2 separate regions of the Homo sapiens genome follow, and region 1 is linked to region 2. Evidence: fine-mapped QTL for protein levels in blood plasma. A gene starts in region 2. The other region holds a variant in brackets. All regions are shown on one strand. Distances are from middle to middle.

What was found. A credible set is the group of variants that fine-mapping cannot tell apart. PIP is the posterior inclusion probability: the model's chance that the variant is causal. The UK Biobank Pharma Proteomics Project read protein levels with antibody pairs (Olink). The fine-mapping took linkage between variants from a reference panel, not from the people measured, so its PIPs are less certain.
Region 1: its variant is the best candidate, but not a certain one, in a credible set for the plasma level of the CKAP4 protein (UK Biobank, PIP 0.68).

Annotation. Positions count from the first base shown.
Region 1 is chr12:106,393,523-106,403,107 of GRCh38, forward strand. The region is part of intron 10 of POLR3B (RNA polymerase III subunit B); the gene reads left to right. Among named protein-coding and RNA genes, the nearest start is that of POLR3B, 41 kb to the left of the region's middle. RefSeq lists enhancers at 4,131-4,632, 4,633-5,132. The variant A/G (reference allele first, on the strand shown) is at 3,838.
Region 2 is chr12:106,243,291-106,252,875 of GRCh38, forward strand. CKAP4 (cytoskeleton associated protein 4) reads right to left here and starts at 4,730. Exons shown (of 2, transcript NM_006825.4): 1 at 4,079-4,730. The coding sequence starts at 4,561. LOC124903008 (a long non-coding RNA gene) reads left to right here and starts at 4,982. Exons shown (of 2, transcript XR_007063443.1): 1 at 4,982-5,469; 2 at 6,381-9,497. RefSeq lists silencers at 3,876-3,965, 4,626-4,935, 4,966-5,305.

The DNA of each region.
Region 1 (9,585 bases), 150 kb after region 2:
GTGTGTGTATGTGTGCATGCATTTCTCTTTAATATCTTTTTTTATTCCCTACTTCAGTTGCTTTAGGCATCCAGTTGTATGTGGTTTCTATTTCTTTTCCTGAATTCCCAGTGCTGCTTTGGACAGCAAGGAAAACCCAGGATCAGTCCCTTTTACTGCTGCAGAGCCTTCATTGACCTGCTCAGGCACTCCTGGTTGGACCCTGGGAATTTTAGGGCAAGACTCAAAGATGAAGACTGAGAAATACACACACACACACACACACACACACACACACACACACCCCATAGTAAAAATAATTGCACTTCCCTTCCCACATGGAGGGAGCCCCAGCAGCCATACTTAGGATTTTAGTCCCATATTTGCAAGTGCTTTCCTAAGTATAAATCAAAGTTAACATCCCTCATAGCCATCCTGGGAGGTGGGAATTCCCCACTATAGAATCACAACAGACAGTTCTTACCTATCCACGTGTACATTGTCTATTCTGTGGGTTATGTATGACATATGTAAACTCTGGGCTGCTTTTTTCTCTTCACCCAGGATGCTTGTAGAGAAAGCATTTCCCACTTATATCTGTTAGTGTGTATTCTGAAATCAAATCAGTATTGATATTTTTGTAGACTACACTAGATATTTAGGAAGATCGAAATAGGTCAGTATATATATATAATTCCAAAGCACAAATCAGTAAGGATTATTCTCATCACCGTCTTCCTCTTTTTCTACAGTTAATTAATAGTTGACTGCAGTTACAGGGCAGGCAGCACCAGGAAGGGTGGTTTGGATTTAGGAGATTCTATTTTTGGCCTTTATCAAAAATGAAATATTTGGTAGGCATGAATCTTTGTTGTACACTAAAGTTACATTGTCCAAGGGTTCCAAGAACATGAAGAGAAAACATTAAGAAATATCAAGGAGGCAGAAAATGTAGAATCTACCCTGCAAACAGGAATATTTGGTTCCATTTTGGGAGATACCCTATTCTTTAATGCTGTGTAGTGCCCTACAAGTTTACCTTAATGGTTCCTCAGTGGCTTCAGTGAAATCCGGTATGCAGTTTATTTCAAACATCATCATTGGGGTCAAATAACCCTAGCATTGTAAAGCTGTTTGAGCAGAGCCCAAACAGTAGGTTGGAAAATCATTCATTTATTTCTGTTAAATAGGTTCTGACAGAAAATGTCAGCTAACTAAATTAGATCAGATTAGTGAGAAGATGGCAGGAAAAGATGGAAGGAAGTTAACATAAGAAAGACAAATGTTCCTTTTCCTCGAAAGGGAAGTATAACTTTGACAGTGCTCGTACTCTGTGTGCAGGATTAAGGCACATATTAGCTATTGAAACTAATAAAAGGATATAGAGATGCAAATAACCCAAAATAGTTGGTATGTAGAACATATATTAACAGTTACGAAAACATGAATATTCTATGCTATTCAAAATGAAGATGTAGTAAGTACACTTTATATTAGTCTGTTCTCACATTGCTATAAAGAAACACCGAATCAGCCTGGACCACATGATAAGACCCCATCTCTACAAACAATAAAAATAAATTAGCCAGGCGTGGTGGCAGGCACCAGTGGTCTCAGCTGCTTGGGAGGCTGAGGCAGGAGGATCACTTGAGCCTGAGAGGTCAAGGCTGCAGTGACCCATGATTGTGCCACCCCAGCCTGTGTGACAGAGTAAGACCTTTCCTCAAAAAAAGAAATACCTGAGACTGGGTAATTTATAAAGAAAAGAGGTTTAATTGGCTCATGGTTTTGCAGCCTGTACAGGAACCAAAACCTGCTTCTGGGGAGGCCTCAAGAAGCTTCCAATCATGGCAGAAGGCAAAGGAGGGGGCAAGGTGTCTCATATAGTGGGAGTGAGAGCAAGAGAGCGTGAGGGAGGAGGGGGTGCCACACACTTTTAAACAACCAGATTGGGAAAACTCACTATCAGGAGGACAGCACCAAGGTGATGGTGCTAAATCAGACATGAGAAATCCATCCCCATGATCCAGCCACCACCCACCAGGCCCCACCTCCAACAATGGGCACTACAATTTGACGTGAGGTTTGGTAGGGACACAGATCCAAACCATATCACACTTTATTTTATATAATAGAACTTTGGAAGATGTGGCACTTTAATGGATTGCTTAAAACCTGTGGGGTTTTGTTTTTTTGGCCAGGCATGGTGGCTTATGCCTGTAATCCAGAGGCCGAGGTGGGTGGATCATTTGAGGTCAGGAGTTCAAGACCCAGCCTGGCCAACATGGTGAAACCCCGCCTCTACTAGAAATACAAAAATTAGCCGGGCGTGGTGGTGGGTGCCTGTAATCCCAGCTACTCGGGAGGCTGAATCAGGAGAATCGCTTGAACCCAGGAGGCGGAGGTTGCAGTGAGCCAAGATCGCGCCACTGCACTCCAGCCTGGGTGACAGAGTGAGACTCCGTTTTTTATGCCTCGCTTTGTAGTCTCTCTCACATTTCTTCTGTTCCCTGAAGCCTTCTTTCTGTGTTGGTCATGTATGTTTTACACCATCATTGTCTTGGGCTCTAGTATATAGAGAAGAAAGTACTAGCTGTAGCGGGGGATAGGAGGCACTAGGCATGTTATCTTGGCCTTTGCATCACAAGGGATACCCTGCTCACCTGTGTTCCTCTATTTCTCCCTCAAACAAGTGAAAAATTTTAGCCTTTTTCACAAGGAAACTAGAAGGCCAACATTTATTGAAGACAGCTTAGTTGGGGGAAAACTGAACTGCCTATCTACTCATGGTTCCTGCCAACTGACCTGCTTTCTTCAGTTACTTAGTTACTACTTACTACTAGGTCACTGCAGCAAGTGTTTTCAGGGTTTTAATTTATCTTAAACTTTAATGGCCTTTTAATGGGAAAGATTTAGATTTGAAGTCCAAATCTTATCATGGGGACAGAGTTTCATTCAATTCCAAACACTGTACTAATCACTGGGAGTCAAAGAAAAAGATGACGGAATTCCCACCAACCAAGTCTAGTAGGAAAAACATACATGTAAATAGATCATTAAAACATAATGTGATATGAACAAGAATTAAAATATGCAATCCTGAATGCATAAAGAATTAAAACTGCAGAGAAAGAGGAGTGGGGTTAGGAAAGCCTTCGGAGAGGAAGTGATACCTGATCTAGGTTTTGAAGCATGAAAAAGGAATTCCCCAAGCAGGTAATTGGACAGGAATTCCAAGTTAAAGAATCAAAGATCCCAGCCTTTTCTTCTGTTAAGCTGAAAGTCTTTTTTTTTTTAAGTTCATTCTTGGCCAGGCATAGTAGGTCACACCTGTTATACTGCCACTTTGGGAGGCCCAGGCAGGAAGATCATTTGAGGCCAAGAGTTGGAGACCAGCCTAGGCAACATAGTGAGACCCTGTTTCTACCAAAGGTTTTGTTGTTGTTGTTGTTGTTGTTGTCGTTGTTTTAATTAGCTGGGCATGGTGGCGTGTGCCTGTAGTTCTGCTACTTGGGAGGCTGAGTGAGGTGGGAGGATTGCCTGAGCCTAGGAGATTGAGGCTGCAGTGAGCTGACATCACACCACTGTACTCCAGCCTGGGCAACAGAGTGAGACCCTGTCTCAAAAAAAAAAAAAAGCACATTGTTGTTCCAAAATAATAAGAACCACATATGCCTCTTCTTTAAACATTGTTGATTAGGAAAAATTTCAACATATACAAAGTACAGAGAATAGTGTTATAAATGCTCATGTATCCAAGGCCTACCTTCAAAAGTTGTCAACACTCTTACTTGGTTATTTTAAGTAAATTTATGTACACTAAAATGTACAAATCTTAATTGTATGACTTTACAAGAT[A/G]TAGAATATTTCCTTATCCCACAGAGTTCCCCCTCATGCCCCTTCCTAGTCAATCTTTACCTCTACTCTCTGATTTTTTTCCCCACTATTCTGATTTTTGCACCGTAGATTAGTTTTGCCAATTACAGAACTTTATATATGGAATTAGGCATCATAGTTTAGTGATTTTTGCACCATAGATTAGTTTTACCTATTTTACAGCATTGTGTATGGAATTAGGCCATATATACTCTTTTGTGTCTAGCTTTTGCTGAGCTTATTGTCTAAGATTCATCCAAGTTATTTCTTTTCATTCCTTTTTATGTCAGTTATCCATGTAGTTCATTTCTTTTTATTGCTGAGTAGTATTTCGTTATATGAATATACCACAGTTTATCCTATTGATAGACACTTGGTGTTTCAGTCTTTAGTAATTATAAATAAGACTGTATAAGCAAATCTTTGTGTGGATGTGTGGACATTTTCATTTCTCATGAATGTGTACCTAAGAATAGAATTGCTGTTAAGGAGCCAAGATGGCCAAATAGGAACAGCTCCGGTCTACAGCTACCAGCGTGAACGACGCACTAAGACGGGTGATTTCTGCCTTTCCAACTGAGATACCGGGTTCATCTCACTGGGGTGTGCCAGACAGTGGGTGCAGCGCACCGTGCGTGAGCCAAAGCAGGGCGACGCATCACCTCACCCAGGAAGCACAAGGGGTCAGGGAATTCCCTTTCCTAGTCAAAGAAAGGGGTGACAGACGGCACCTGGAAAATCGGGTCACTCCCACCCTAATACTGCACTTTCCCAACGGGCTTAAGAAACGGCACACCAGGAGATTATATCCCGCACATGACTCGGAGGGTCCTATGCCCACGGAGTCTCGCTCATTGCTAGCACAGCAGTCTGAGATCAAACTGCAAGGCGGCAGCGAGGCTGGGGGAGGGGCGCCCACCATTGCCGAGACTTGATTAGGTAAACAAAGCGGCTGGGAAGCTCGAACTGGGTGGAGCCCACCACAGCTCAAGGAGGCCTGCCTGCCTCTGTAGGCTCCACCTCTGGGGGCAGGGCACAGACAAACAAAAAGACAGCAGTAACCTCTGCAGACTTAAATGTCCCTCTCTGACAGCTTTGAAGAGAGTAGTGGTTCTCCCAGCATGCAGCTTGAGATCTGAGAATGGGCAGACTGCCTCCTCAAGTGGTTCCCTGACCCCCGAATAGCCTAACTGGGAGGCACCCCCCAGTAGGGGCGGACTGACACCTCACACGGCCAGGTACTCCTCTGAGACAAAACTTCCAGAGGAACGATCAGGCAGCAGCATTTGCGGTTCACCAGTACCTGCTGTTCTGCAGCCACCATTGCTGACACCCAGGCAAACAGGGTCTGGAGTGGACCTCTAGCAAACTCCAACAGACCTGCAGCTGAGGGTACTGTCTGTTAGAAGGAAAACTAACAAACAGGAAGGACATCCACATCAAAAACCCATCTGTACGTCACCATCATCAAAGACCAAAGGTAGATGAAACCACAAAGATGGGGAAAAAACAGAGCAGAAAAACTGGAAACTCTAAAAATCACAGCACCTCTCCTCCTCCAAAGGAACGCAGCTCCTCACCAGCAACAGAACAAAGCTGAACGGAGAATGACTTTGACGAGTTGAGAAAAGAAGGCTTCACACGATCAAACTACTCCAAGCTGCAGGAGGAAGTTCGAACCAATGGCAAAGAAGTTAAAAACTGAAAAAAAATTAAATGAATGGCTAACTAGAATAACCAATGCAGAGAAGTCCTTAAAGGACCTGATGGACCTGAAAACCAAGGCACGAGAACTATGTGACGAATGCAGAAGCCTCAGTAGCCGATGCAACTGGAAGAAAGGCTATCAGTGATGGAAGACGAAATGAATGAAATAAAGCAAGAAGAGAAGTTTAGAGAAAAAAGAATGAAAAGAAACGAACAAAGCCTCCAAGAAATATGGGACTATATGAAAAGACCAAATGTAGGTCTGATTGGTGTACCTGAAAGTGACAGGGAGAATGGAACCAAGTTGGAAAACACTCTGCAGGATATTATCCAGGAGAACTTCCCCAATCTAGCAAGGCAGGCCAACATTCAAATTCAGGAAATACAGAGAATGCCACAAAGATACTCCTTGAGAAGAGCAACTCCAAGACGCATAATTGTCAGATTCACCAAAGTTGAAATGAAAGAAAAAATGTTAAGGGCAGCCAGGGAGAAAGATCGGGTTACCCACAAAGGGAAGCCCATCAGACTAACAGCGGATCTCTCAGCAGAAACTCTACAAGCCAGAAGAGAGTGGGGGCCAATATTCAACATTCTCAAAGAAAAGAATTTTCAACCCAGAATTTCATATCCAGCCAAACTAAGCTTCATAAGTGAAGGAGAAATAAAATACTTTACAGACAAGCAAATGCTGAGAGACTTTGTCACCACCAGGCCTGCCCTAAAAGAGCTCCTGAAGGAAGCACTAAACTTGGAAAGGAACAACCGGTAACTGGTACCAGCCACTACAAAAACATGCCAAATTGTAAAGACTGTCAAGGCTAGGAAGAAACTGCATCAACTAACAAGCAAAATAGCCAGCTGACATCATAATGACAGATCAAATTCACACATAACGATATTAACTTTGAATGTAAATGGGCTAAATGCTCCAATTAAAAGACACAGACTGGCAAATTGGATAAAGAGTCAAGACCCATCAGTGTGCTGTATTCAGGAAACCCATCTAAGGTGCAGAGACACACATAGGCTCAAAATAAAGGGATGGAGGAAGATCTGCCAAGCAAATGGAAAACAGAAAAAGGCAGGGGTTGCAATCCTAGTCTCTGATAAAACAGACTTTAAACCAACAAAGATCAAAAGAGACAAAGAAGGCCATTACATAATGGTAAAGGGATCAATTCAACAAGAAGAGCTAACTATCCTAAATATATATGCACCCAATATAGGAGCACCCAGATTCATAAAGCAAGTCCTTAGTGACCTAGAAAGAGACTTAGACTCCCACACAATAATAATGGGAGACTTTAACACCCCACTGTCAACATTAGACAGATCAACGAGACTGAAAGTTAACCAGGAATTGAACTCGACTCTGCACCAAGTGGACCTAATAGACATCTACAGAACTCTCCACCCCAAATCAACAGAATATACATTCTTTTCAGCACCACACCACACCTATTCCAAAATTGACCACATAGTTGGAAGTAAAGCACTCTTCAGCAAATGTAAAAGAACAGAAATTATAACAAACTGTCTCTCAGACCACAGTGGAATCAAACTAGAACTCAGGATTAAGAAACTCACTCAAAACCGCTCAACTACATGGAAACTGAACAACCTGCTCCTGAATGACTACTGGGTACATAATGAAATGAAGGCAGAAATAAAGATGGTCTTTGAAACCAATGAGAACAAAGACACAACATACCAGAATCTCTGGGACACATTCAAAGCAGTGTGTAGAGGGAAATTTATAGCACTAAATGCCCACTAGAGAAAGCAGGAAAGATCTAAAATTGACACCCTAACATCACAATTAAAAGAACTAGAAAAGCAAGAGCAAACACATTCAAAATCTAGCAGAAGGCAAGATATAACTAATATCAGAGCAGAACTGAAGGAAATAGAGACACAAAAAACCCTTCAAAAACTCAATGAATCCAGCAGCTGGTTTTTTGAAAAGATTAACAAAATTGATAGACTGCTAGCAAGACTAATAAAGAATAAAAGAGAAGAATCAAATAGACGCAATAAAAAGTGATAAAGGGGATATCACCAGCGATCCCACAGAAATACAAACTACCATCAGAGAATACTATAAACATGTCTATGCAAATAAACTAGAAAATCTAGAAGAAATGGATAAACTCCTCGATACATACATCCTCCCAAGACTAAACCAGGAAAAAGTTGAATCTCTGAATAGACCAATAACAGGCTCTGAAATTGAGGCAATAATCAATAGCTTACCAACTAAAAAAAGTCCAGGACCAGATGGATTCTACCAGAGGTACAAGGAGGAGCTGGTACCATTCCTTCTGAAACTGTTCCAATCAATAGAAAAAGAGGGAATCCTCCCTAACTCATTTTATGAGGCCAGCATCATCCTGATACCAAAGCCTGGCAGAGCCAAAACAAAAAAAGAGAATTTTAGACCAATATCCTTGATGAACATTGATGCAAAAATCCTCATTAAAATACTGGCAAACCGAATCCAGCAGCACATCAAAAAGCTTATCCACCATGATCAAGTGGACTTCATCCCTGGGATGCAAGGCTGGTTCAACATACACAAATCAATAAATGTAATCCAGCATATAAACAGAACCAACGACAAAAACCACATGATTATCTCAATAGATGCGGAAAAGGCCTTTGACAAAATTCAACAACCTTCATGCTAAAAACTCTCAATAAATTAGGTATTGATGGGACATATCTCAAAATAATAAGAGCTATCTATGACAAACCCACAGCCAATATCATACTGAATGGGCAAAAACTGGAAGCATTCCCTTTGAAAACTGGCACAGGACAGGGATGCCCTCTCTCACCACTCCTATTCAACATAGTGTTGGAAGTTCTGGCCAGGGCAATCAGGCAGTTGAAGGAAATAAAGAGTATTCAATTAGGAAAAGAGGAAGTCAAATTGTCCCTGTTTGCAGATGACATGATTGTATATCTAGAAAACCCCATCGTCTCAGCCCAAAATCTCCTTAAGCTGATAAGCAACTTCAGCAAAGTCTCAGGATACAAAATCAATGTGCAAAAATCACAAGCATTCTTATACACCAATAACAGACAAACAGAGCCAAATCATGAGTGAACTCCCATTCACAATTGCTTCAAAGAGAATAAAATACCTAGGAATCCAACTTACAAGGGATGTGAAGGACCTCTTCAAGGAGAACTACAAACCACTGCTCAATGAAATAAAAGAGGATACAAACAAATGGAAGAACATTTCATGCTCATGGGTAGGAAGAATCAATATCGTGAAAATGGCCATACTGCCCAAGGTAATTTATAGATTCAATGCCATCCCCATCAAGCTACCAGTGACTTTCTTCACAGAATTGGAAAAAACTACTTTAAAGTTCATATGGAACCAAAAAAGAGCCCGCATCGCCAAGTCAATTCTAAGCCCAAAGAACAAAGCTGGAGGCATCACGCTACCTGACTTCAAACTACCACAAGTCTACAGTAACCAAAACAGCATGGTACTGGTACCAAAACAGAAATATCGACCAATGGAACAGAACAGAGCCCTCAGAAATAATGCCACATATCTACAACTATCTGATCTTTGACAAACCTGACAAAAACAAGAAATGGGGAAAGGATTCCCTATTTAATAAACGGTGCTGGGAAAACTGGCTAGCCATACGTAGAAAGCTGAAACTGGATCCCTTCCTTACACCTTATACAAAAATTAATTCCAGATGGATTAAAGACTTACATGTTAGACCTAAAACCATAAAAACCCTAGAAGAAAACCTAGGCAATACCATTCAGGACATAGGCATGGGCAGGGACTTCATGTCTAAAACACCAAAAGCAATGGCAACAACAGCCAAAATTGACAAATGGGATCTAATTAAACTAAAGAGCTTCTGCACAGCAAAAGAAACTACCATCAGAGTGAACAGGCAACCTACAGAATGGGAGAAAATTTTTGCAACCTACTCATCTGACAAAGGGCTAATATCCAGAATCTACAATGAACTCAAACAAATT
Region 2 (9,585 bases):
GGTAGGCTCAAACGTTAAAATCCCAAAATGCTTGATTTCAGAACCTGAGCTCTCAACCAGTATGTGATATGCTCAGGCAGGGGCACTGACTTCAAAGTGCCCTGAGTACCTGGAAGAGAGACTGCCAACTCCTGAAGCCCTGACTCCTTAGCCAGAGAATCTAGACAAGAAAACAAAGAAATATGACCAGGGAGCTCACTCTTCCACAAATAGGTCCTAGTCTCATTAAACTGTCCCTACCAGGCCTAAGCCTACTCCTACCATTGCTTTATATCACGCTGGATCTGCCAGGGCAACACAGGCTCTTCAGAGGGCCTAGAGATGAACTGCCAACACTTTCTGAAGCCCAGGACCCACTTGTGCCTGCTGAATCCTCTGGGTAAGGACAGGCCTGCCTCTCTGCCTGTGCTACAGTCATTCAGAAGATTTGAGCCATTCTCCAATAACAAGAACATCTGGAGAACAAGAGACAGGTGGGCACCCAACTCCAGCTACACAACTTATGGTCTGTGTGTGACCTTGAATGAGTTACACAGCCAGTCCTCAGCTGCCCCATCTGCAAAATGGTACTACTAAATGATACCTGCCTCAGAGGGTGGCTGGGAGAACAGAAATCATGGCTATAAAGCATTTAATAGCATGGCTGACCCATAGTGAACAGTAATTATGAATACTGTAAGTATACTTCCCTGCTATGAACCAAACTCCACCCCCCAACAAGTAACCAAGAGTTATAAAAGGGTTCAAACTTAGGCTGTCAGAGAACCAAACACAACTGGTTCCTCAATGCAAAATAATTTATTTACTGGCCACCCCAAAGATACAGACAGAGTGGCCACATTCTATGGCAAATCTAACACTGTTCTGGCCATGTTCTGAGTCTCAAGTCAATGGAACATTTATTGGGCACCTACTATGTACTAGGCTAAATAGTGGAGTGGTTAATAGTGTTCCAGGAGTTAGACAACAGTTTGGATCCTAGCCCAGCCACTAACTAGCTATATCACCGCTCAGTTACTTAGCCTCTCACTTTTCTCATCTGTCAAAGAGGGCTGATAATAGTACTTACCTCTTGGGGTTGTTGTGAGAGTCAGCAGATGATGCATTTTCAAATGCTTTGCATAGTGCCTGGCACGTAATAAGTGCACCATAAATATGACACATTAAATTATAGTTTGATTACACTACTAAATTAAAAGAAAAGTGGTCAGCCAGGCGCAGTGGCTCACATCTGTAATCCCAGCACTTTGAGAGGCCAAGGCAGGAGGACTGCTTGAGCCCAGGAGTTTGAGACCAGCCTGAGCAACACAGCAAGACCCTGTCTCTACCAAAAATTTTAAAAATAAATAAATAGCTGGACGTGCTTGTGCATGCCTGTGGTCCCAGCTACTTGTGAGGCTGAGGCAAGAGGAACACTTGAGGCCAGGAGTTCAAGGCTGCAGTGAGCTATGATCACACCACTACGCTCCAGCCTGGTGACAGAGTGAGACCCTGTCTCTACGAAATATAAAATATGAAATAAAAAACAGAGAAGTCACTATTTCAATTATTTTAGAGCCATGAGGATTCTTAAAAGTCTGGATGGAGCCCTCTTCTCATTGTGTGGGTGGGAAAACTGAGCCCCAAAGAAGAAAGTGATCTATATACATAGCTGTGATGGAGAAGGGGTGAGAAGCAAAAAGAAGGGACTAAGTGAGGGGCAGGGAGAAGCACAGAGAATTAACCTGGATTCAAGACCTTCCCTATTTTGGCCTCAACTTCCAACCCACCCTCTCTCACAATTTCCTACATGTGACTCTGCCATTGGCAGGGTAGCCACCTCCTCTCTCTCAAACATGCTCAAAATAGTGCCCCTGCCACGGTGTTCATCACAGTCCTTCTCTCAACATTTATCGATCACCAGCTAGATGGCTGGCACTACCCTGGCCACCGGGATACAGGCGAAATTCCACACCCTCCCTCTTCTGAACTTTCACAGGAGTTACCCTCAACTGACACCTCCTTATGCGCTGCACAAGTGATTCGTGTCTTTTGCTCCTTCATACCCTCCCACAAAGCCTACACAGAGCCATGCAACTGTCAGACTTTAATAAATATTATGATTGACTAGTAAGTAGGAGGATGAAAGAGAAGAAACAGAGGCTAGTCATTATACTCCAGCAGTATGTCTATTTTTTAAGAATGGTTTGACATTCAGGATAGGCAAAGCAGCACTGCCTACTTAATTCCCTTAGAAAAGTCACCTCCCTTGGCCTGCAGCGTTTAGCAGGCTGACTCATTCCAGTTGCTCTGCCAGTCTTTTTTTTTTTTTTTTTTTTTTTTGAGACGGAGTCTCACTCTGTTGCCCCGGCTGGGGTGCACTGGCAGGATTTCCGCTCACTGCAACCTCCACCTCCCGGGTTCAAGCAATTCTCCTGCCTCAACCTCCTGAGTAGCTGGGACTACAGGCATGTGCCACCACACCCCGCTAATTTTTGTATTTTTAGTAGACACAGGGTTTCACCATGTTGGCCAGGCTGCTCTCAAACTTCTGACCTCAGGTGATCCGCCCGCCTCGGCCTCCTACAGTGCCGGGATTACAGGCGTGAGCCACCACGCCCGGCCGTGCTCTGCCAGTCTTAAGAGGAAATTCCTGGTCCTGCACACTCAACAAAAGCAGAGAGCAACTTGGCAGGACAGACAGCATGCTGGGAAAAGGAGGCAGTGGCTCCGGGATCAGAAGTGGCGGGATTTTTTGTTTCAGTCTTGCAACCAACTTTCATTGAGCAATGACATAGTGGAGGGCGAATAAGATCAAAGGGGCTGTACTTGGTATGGAAAAACCACAGAAGGGTGGAAGCTAAGCACCTTCGCCTTGAGAGTTGGGTCCATCCATACCTGAAATGGACCCCTGTGGACCCTTGACGAACAGGGCAGTGGCCTAGACATTCTCGTGTGTCTGTCACTCACCAGCTGGGGACTTTGTCAACTCATTCCTCTGTCTAAACCTCAATGTTCTGCTCTGGGAAATGAAATCAAAACTGTTAGTCCTCCCTCCCAGGGTAGTTATAAGAATTAGATAATATGTGAGTGAGTAAGCATTCTAAACACCATATAAATGTGGCTAGAAGTATTATTCACCAGTATGATCTAGTATTTTTGGCCCTCCTCTTCCCCTAAAGCGGAAGTAGGGCCGGGCGCAGTGGCTCACGCCTGTAATCCCAGCACTTTGGGAGGCCGAGGCAGGCGGATCACTTGAGGTCAGAAGTTCGAGACCAGCCTGGCCAATACGGTGAAACTTTGTCTCTACTACTAATAAAAAATTAGCTGGGTATGGTGGCACATGTCTGTAATCCCAGCTACTCAGGAGGCTGAGGCAGGAGAATCGCTGGAACCTGGGAGGCAGAGGTTGCAGTGAGCTGAGATCGTACCACTGCACTCCAGCCTGGGCGACAGAGCCAGACTCCCTCTCAAAAGAAAACCCAAAAAAGCTGAAGTAGGACTACGTCAAAGGCCCACCTGGGCAGGCTGGTCCAATACAGGACAAGGGACCTAAAGATAGATGGTATTTCATTTGGACCTGCAAATGAGTAAGAATGCCAGCTCCGGGTCTATTAAAAACCCCGCTCGGATGTCTCCCACAGGCAGAGCTGAGGTGGGGCCTTGCCTGAGGCTTCCAGGGATGCGCTGGCTTCCCTTCCAACCTCCTTTTCAGACAGCTCTGCCCATTCAGCGGTTCCTAATGCAGAAAGAATGGGCTCCCCGGAGCCTGCCGGCTTCCTTACAGGTCACCGCTAATGCCCTGTGACAGGCCCTTGGCCCACCCTGCCAGGCGGGCCTGGGCATCCTCGCGGCGGCCCATCCCTCGGGGCCGATTCCTCCGCAGCCATTAACAAAGGGGGTCTGGGGACTGCCTCGGAACTAGGGGGCCGCGTGGAGTGGGATGTCTAGGCCAGGGCCCGCCAAGGAGGAGCGGCCGGCTCCCGCCTCCGGGCCTGGGCAGGCAGCGCTAGGGGCCGGTCGGGAAGCACGAAGGAGCCCGGCCGTGGGTCCGGAGGCCGCAGTCGATGGGGACAGTTGCGGGGCCGGGGGTACCCACCTTCTGCTCGACGCCCTGCAAGCCCTGGCCCAGCTCCTCCCTCTGCCGGGAGAAGTCCTGGTGGCTGCGCCGGACCTGCTGGACCTCCTCCAGGACGTGGTGGACGCACCAGCCCGAGAAAGCGGCCGCCGCCACCAGGGCGAGGTAGAAGAGAAAGTTGAGCGCCCTGCCGAGCCTGCGCGAGCAGGACGCCGAGGACGAGGCGGCGGCGGCGGCAGCGGCGGCGGAGGCGGAGGAGGAGGAGGAGGACTTGCCGCCGCCGCCGCCGCCGCCGCGGTGGCCGCCCTTGCCGTGCGCCTGGTTCTGCGGGTGCTGCTGCGGGTGCTGCTGCGGGTGCGGCGCGGGCGGCGGCGGCGGCTGCTGCGGCGCCGGCGGCGGCTTCTTCGCCACGTCATCCGCGCCGCCCGACGGGTGGGCACCCTTCTCCGAGGGGCTCGCGGCGCCGTGGCCGCCCTTGGAGCCCCTTTGTTTGGCCGAGGGCATGGCGGGCGCGGCGGCGGCTCGGGCCGCGGGCTGGGAGGCGAGCGAGCGCGGCGCGCGGCCCGGGAAACTTGCAGGGGCTCCCCCGGGACTGGGCGAGCGGCACGCGGGCGCTGCTGGCGTCGGAGCGGCGAGAGGACGCGCGGCCGGGGAAGGAGGCCGGGCCGAGGAGGCGGGAGGAGGGGGCCTGCCTCCGCCGCCGCGGCGCCGACCCCGCCTCCCGGTAAGGGAGGCCGAGCGAGCCGAGCCGGGAGAGCTTGCCACGCACGCCGGCCCGGCGGCCCCTCCTCCCCGCCGCCACGACCCCGGAGAGGGAGGGCCGGGCGGGGTCTACGGGGGCCGGGAAGCCGGCGCGGGGGTGGCTGGGCGCGGGGCGGGGTCCCGGCGGGGTCTGCGGAGGCCGGGGTGGGCACCGAGGTGGCCGCGAGGGGAGGGGAGAAGAGCGGAGCGGAGGGGAGGGGACGCGGCCGAGGTGGGGCTGGCGGCCCGGCGGGTTCCACGCAGGCTGGGGGCGGAGGGCCAGATCGACCCCAGCCGGGGCGGCCGAGCAGGGTCCACGGGGGTCGGGGATGGGCGGCCAGGCGGGGTCGGAGGGACGAAAGCCGGGGTGAACCTGCGCCGCGGGCCAAGCGCGACCCCCTCCCTTCCCGACCTGTGCGGAGAGGAGAGAAATGAAGGGGGGCGCCCAAGGAGCCCTGGCCCCGGGAGTGGGAGTCAGCGGGTGGGAACAGATCGCCCTTCCTTTCCGCTGGGAATTGGGGGACTCCCCCTGCTTTCACTCTCCCAGCCCGCCATGGGGTTGGGCCTTGTCCTTTGCCTTGGGTTTGAAGGCGGAGACAAAAAAGGCTGTCCAAAATCCAGCCAGCTTGGGAGGCATGGTTGATGCGAGTTAGCAAAGATTCTCGACTGTGGTAAGTCTGTTCAAGGGGACGCATTCACCAAGTGTCCCCGTTAGCCAAGTTAGCCTGCTGTGGCCAGCTCTTTACTTTTTCCCCCCGAAGCCCCTTCAGCTCTGTTTTCTCTTTCGGGGTCATGAAGTTTGTCCACGGCCCCTACTCCTGACAGCCTCTGGGATGGGTGCTGCGGAGGCAGCAGCAGCCACACAGAAAGAGGCAGATCAGCGTTGTCACCCCTACTTTTGTAAAAGGAAATCTGGTATTGCCAGGCTGTGTGGTTAGCGACTCACATATGTTCTCGAAATCTCACAAAAGCCCTGTGAGGTAGAAATTATTTTACCCATTTTATAGGAAGGAAATTGAGACTGAGCGAGCCGGCTTCGGATTGGCTCAAGGTCACATATAGTCATCATTCGAACCTCACTCAGTCTGCTTCTTTCTGAAGTCTGTGCAGCTTAATCACTTCAGAATGGGAAGGAAACGGGGGCCCAGGGAAGTTAAGCAACTTGCCCACTCACTCAGTCTAATTGGTGCCGGGGCAGGGACAGAACTCACTCAATTCCACTGCTTTCCCCAGTTTCTGGTGAGTGATGTGTGCCTGGCACTGTGTGCACCTGGCACTGTGTGTAGTAGGAATGCTGTTTCTTCTGTCTGTAACCTCCTCCCAGTTCTGTAAACAAAGACAAAACCATGCCCTGCCCTTAAAGCCTATAGGGTTCAAATGCCACCTCTTTGATGATGCTTTCCCTATAACACCATTTGATACCTCTCATGGGACTTAGCAAGTAATTGCAACGAGAGGCATATATGTTAGTTCAATATAGCAAACCTTTGTTGAGGGCCCACTGTGTGCCAGGTATGTCTCCCCTCCCTGAGGACTGGAAGCAACCATAGTTTATATTTCTCCTTCTTTCTCGCTTTATAAGGTGTTGCTAAAAGCCTCCAGTGAATGAATGAACACTTGTGTGCCTGCCCTCAAGGAGCCTGCACTACACTTGGAGATATATACAGAAACCTGTTGAGGGCTAACTTAGGTAAATTGGGAACATAAATGTAAAGAGATTTGGAAAGCAAACCATTGGCCTGTACATGGGCAGGCTTTGGGGGCAGAAAGACCTTGAGCAGTGCCTTGAAGAATGATTTGCATATGAGGAGAGCAGGGAGGATATTTCTGTGGCGGAAATGGGGTGAGCCCAGGACACCTGTTGGCCATGAGGGTGTGTTCTACATGTAGAGAAGAAAGAGATGAACTGGGTGGAGCGGGTCCAGATTGCAGAAGGCTATAGAAGCCAAGCTGGCAGATAGAAGAATCGCTATTAGTGTGGGAGGACAGAGTAAATTATAGCAGGTTCTGGACTAGAAATACAACCATCTGCCCCAGACAGAGAGGAACACCCTACTTCAGCTAAATACCAGGAGCTATTGTAGGAGCCTCTAGGTTCAACAGGGCACAGGTCTCTGACCTGTGGCGCGGGGAGACAGCAGAAGAAATCAGAAGACACTCATCACAGGAACCTTGTTTAAAAACTATTCAGCTGAGTTCGGGTTGTGTTGTTAAAATCTCTAGCGCGCAAAAAGAGGTTATCCCCCTTCAAGCAGTTCTCCATGTTAGGGGCAGAGGCAGTGATAACTGGTAAAGCAGCTTGCTGCCAAGATCTGGCCTTGAAAGCAAGAGCCCTACTCCTTTAGTGCTACCAAAGTGTGTGACCTTGAGAAGTATCCCTAAACTCCTCTAGATTTCAGGGTCACCCTTTCTGTAAGGTGCATCTTTAAGGACCTGTCTTATTATTAATCCGTTTCTTAGAGAAATAGTCATCTGATCCTTATCAAAAATAATTAAATGATATTTAAATTTTTAAAAATTGATCCAGGCCAAGTACAGTGCCTCACACCTGTAATCCCAACGCTATGGGAGGCCAAGGCAGGAAGATCACTTGAGGCCAGGAGTTCAAGACCAGCCTAGATAACAGCAAGACCCTGACTCCACCAAAAAAAATTTAGCTGGATGTGGTGGCACTCAGGAGGCTGAGACAGGAGGATCGCTTGAGCCTGGGAGTTCAAGGTTATAGTGAGCTATGATGGCACCACTGTACTCCAGCCTGGGCAACAGAGCAAGACCCTGTCTCAGGAAAAAAAAAAAAGCAGACTGTAGGCCAGATATGAGAATGGACGGTTTCTCAATTTTTACCTCTACTGAGCACTGAATGAATGAATAGAGAGTAGGACGATGGGACTGTTAATATTTTCAGCATTTCCCTCTCATTCTTTTCCTCTGGGAGATAGTACATACAATGGTTAAGACACAGGCTATAGAATAGACTGACTTGGGTTCAAATTCAGCTCCATGACTGACTTTGGAGTGTGACCTCTCTGAACCTCAGTATCTTCAGCTATAAGACAGGAGTAATTGCTACCTCACTAGGCCAGGTGTGGTGGCTCACACCTATAATCCCAGTACTTGGGGAGGCCGAGGCAGATGGACTGCTTGAGCCCAAGAGTTCAAAACAAGCCTGGGCAACAAGGCAAAACCCTGTCCCTACAAAAAATACAAAAAAAAATTATCCAGGCATGGTGGAGTGTGACTGTAGTCCCAGCTACTTGGGGAGCTGAGGTGAGAGGATCACTTGGGCCTGGAAAGTCAAGGCTGCAGTGAGCCCTGTTCACCATTGCACTCCACCCAAAAAAAAAGAACAACCTTGCTGTTATGCGGATTAGACAAGAGACACCATATGATACTGGGCATATGGCAATGCTCAGTGAATATTGGACAGCTAATACAATTTGCAGAGTCACTGAGGAAAAGTATAGCTTCAGAGAGCTTCTGTGTCCAGATTTCAACGATTTTCTTTCATCATTATTTCGTGGGGCTCCCAGGACCATATGTGGCTCACAAACCACAGGCTAGGATGTGTTTAACGTTAAAAGCAAGCAGTGTGTTTCTCTGAAGTGTGGCTCCACCATGGTGTTCGGTTACACCCAGAGGAGGAGGCTGGTGGGCAGTCATAGAAGTGCATCTTCCAGAGCAGGAAGGGATCAACAGCTCTTCCTGGAGACTTCCATTCTCCTACCCCAGTTTCTGAGCACAGCATGAATCTAGAGGAGTTTCTCTTCTGCTTTTCCTCCTAGTTTTGTTTCCTCTATCCCTTTTCCTTGCTAAAGTGTGTTGGATGGTCAGGAATGTGGGCGGAGAAGAGGGGGAGCTGGAGACATCTCATCCTTTCATCCAGCTTGTGTAAAAATGCCTCAGAACTCCCTCATACCACATGCACCATAAATTATAAGGTCAAGCTTTGTAAGCCTGCAGCCCTCTTGGCTTTTTGCATGTTGGTTAGAATGCCTAAATAGAAAGCCTCTGTTAATGTTGATTGCCTCTTGTCTGTTCCAGGTTGGCAAGGCCCCCAGTGGCCAAGGCATGAGCCTGGATGCCCTGCAAATTGAGTACGTGTTAGGGATGGGGGCCATTCTTTATAGTTTGACTCTGGAGAGCTAGGACCACCTTTCCCAGCCTCAGGGGTGCACATCCTCAGGAGCTGCCTACCTCCAGATATTGTAAGTCCATGCAGAAGAGGAAGGGCCCAGCTGGGGCACCTCTTGGTTGAGGAATGAGTATGTGACATTTTCATGTGGGCACATTTTGATACTACTTTAAAAATAGACCAAGCACAGTGGCTCACACCTGTAATTCCAGCACTTCGGGACGCTGAGAGAGGTGGATCACCTGAGGTCAGGAGTTCGAGATCAGCCTGGCCAACATGGAGAAACCCCGCCTCTACTAAAAATACAAAACATTAGCTGGGTGTGGTGGCACACACCTGTAATTCCAGCTACTCGGGAGGCAGAAGCAGGAGAATCGCTTGAATCCAGGAGGCGGAGGTTGCAGTAAGCCGAGATCACGCCACTACACTCCAGCTTACACTGGACATGATGAGGAGGAGGAGGATGATGGTGGTGATTATGATAGAAATGGTGATGGTGATGATGACAATGGTGATAGTAGGGATGGTCTTGCTCTGTCGCAATCAATAAATGAATGCATAAACACATTTCTACTTGTTTTTGCAGTCCTAAGATAAGTGCTCAGTAGCATCCCTGCCCTTCTAATGTGAACTTGAGGGATGGGTAAGACCCAGA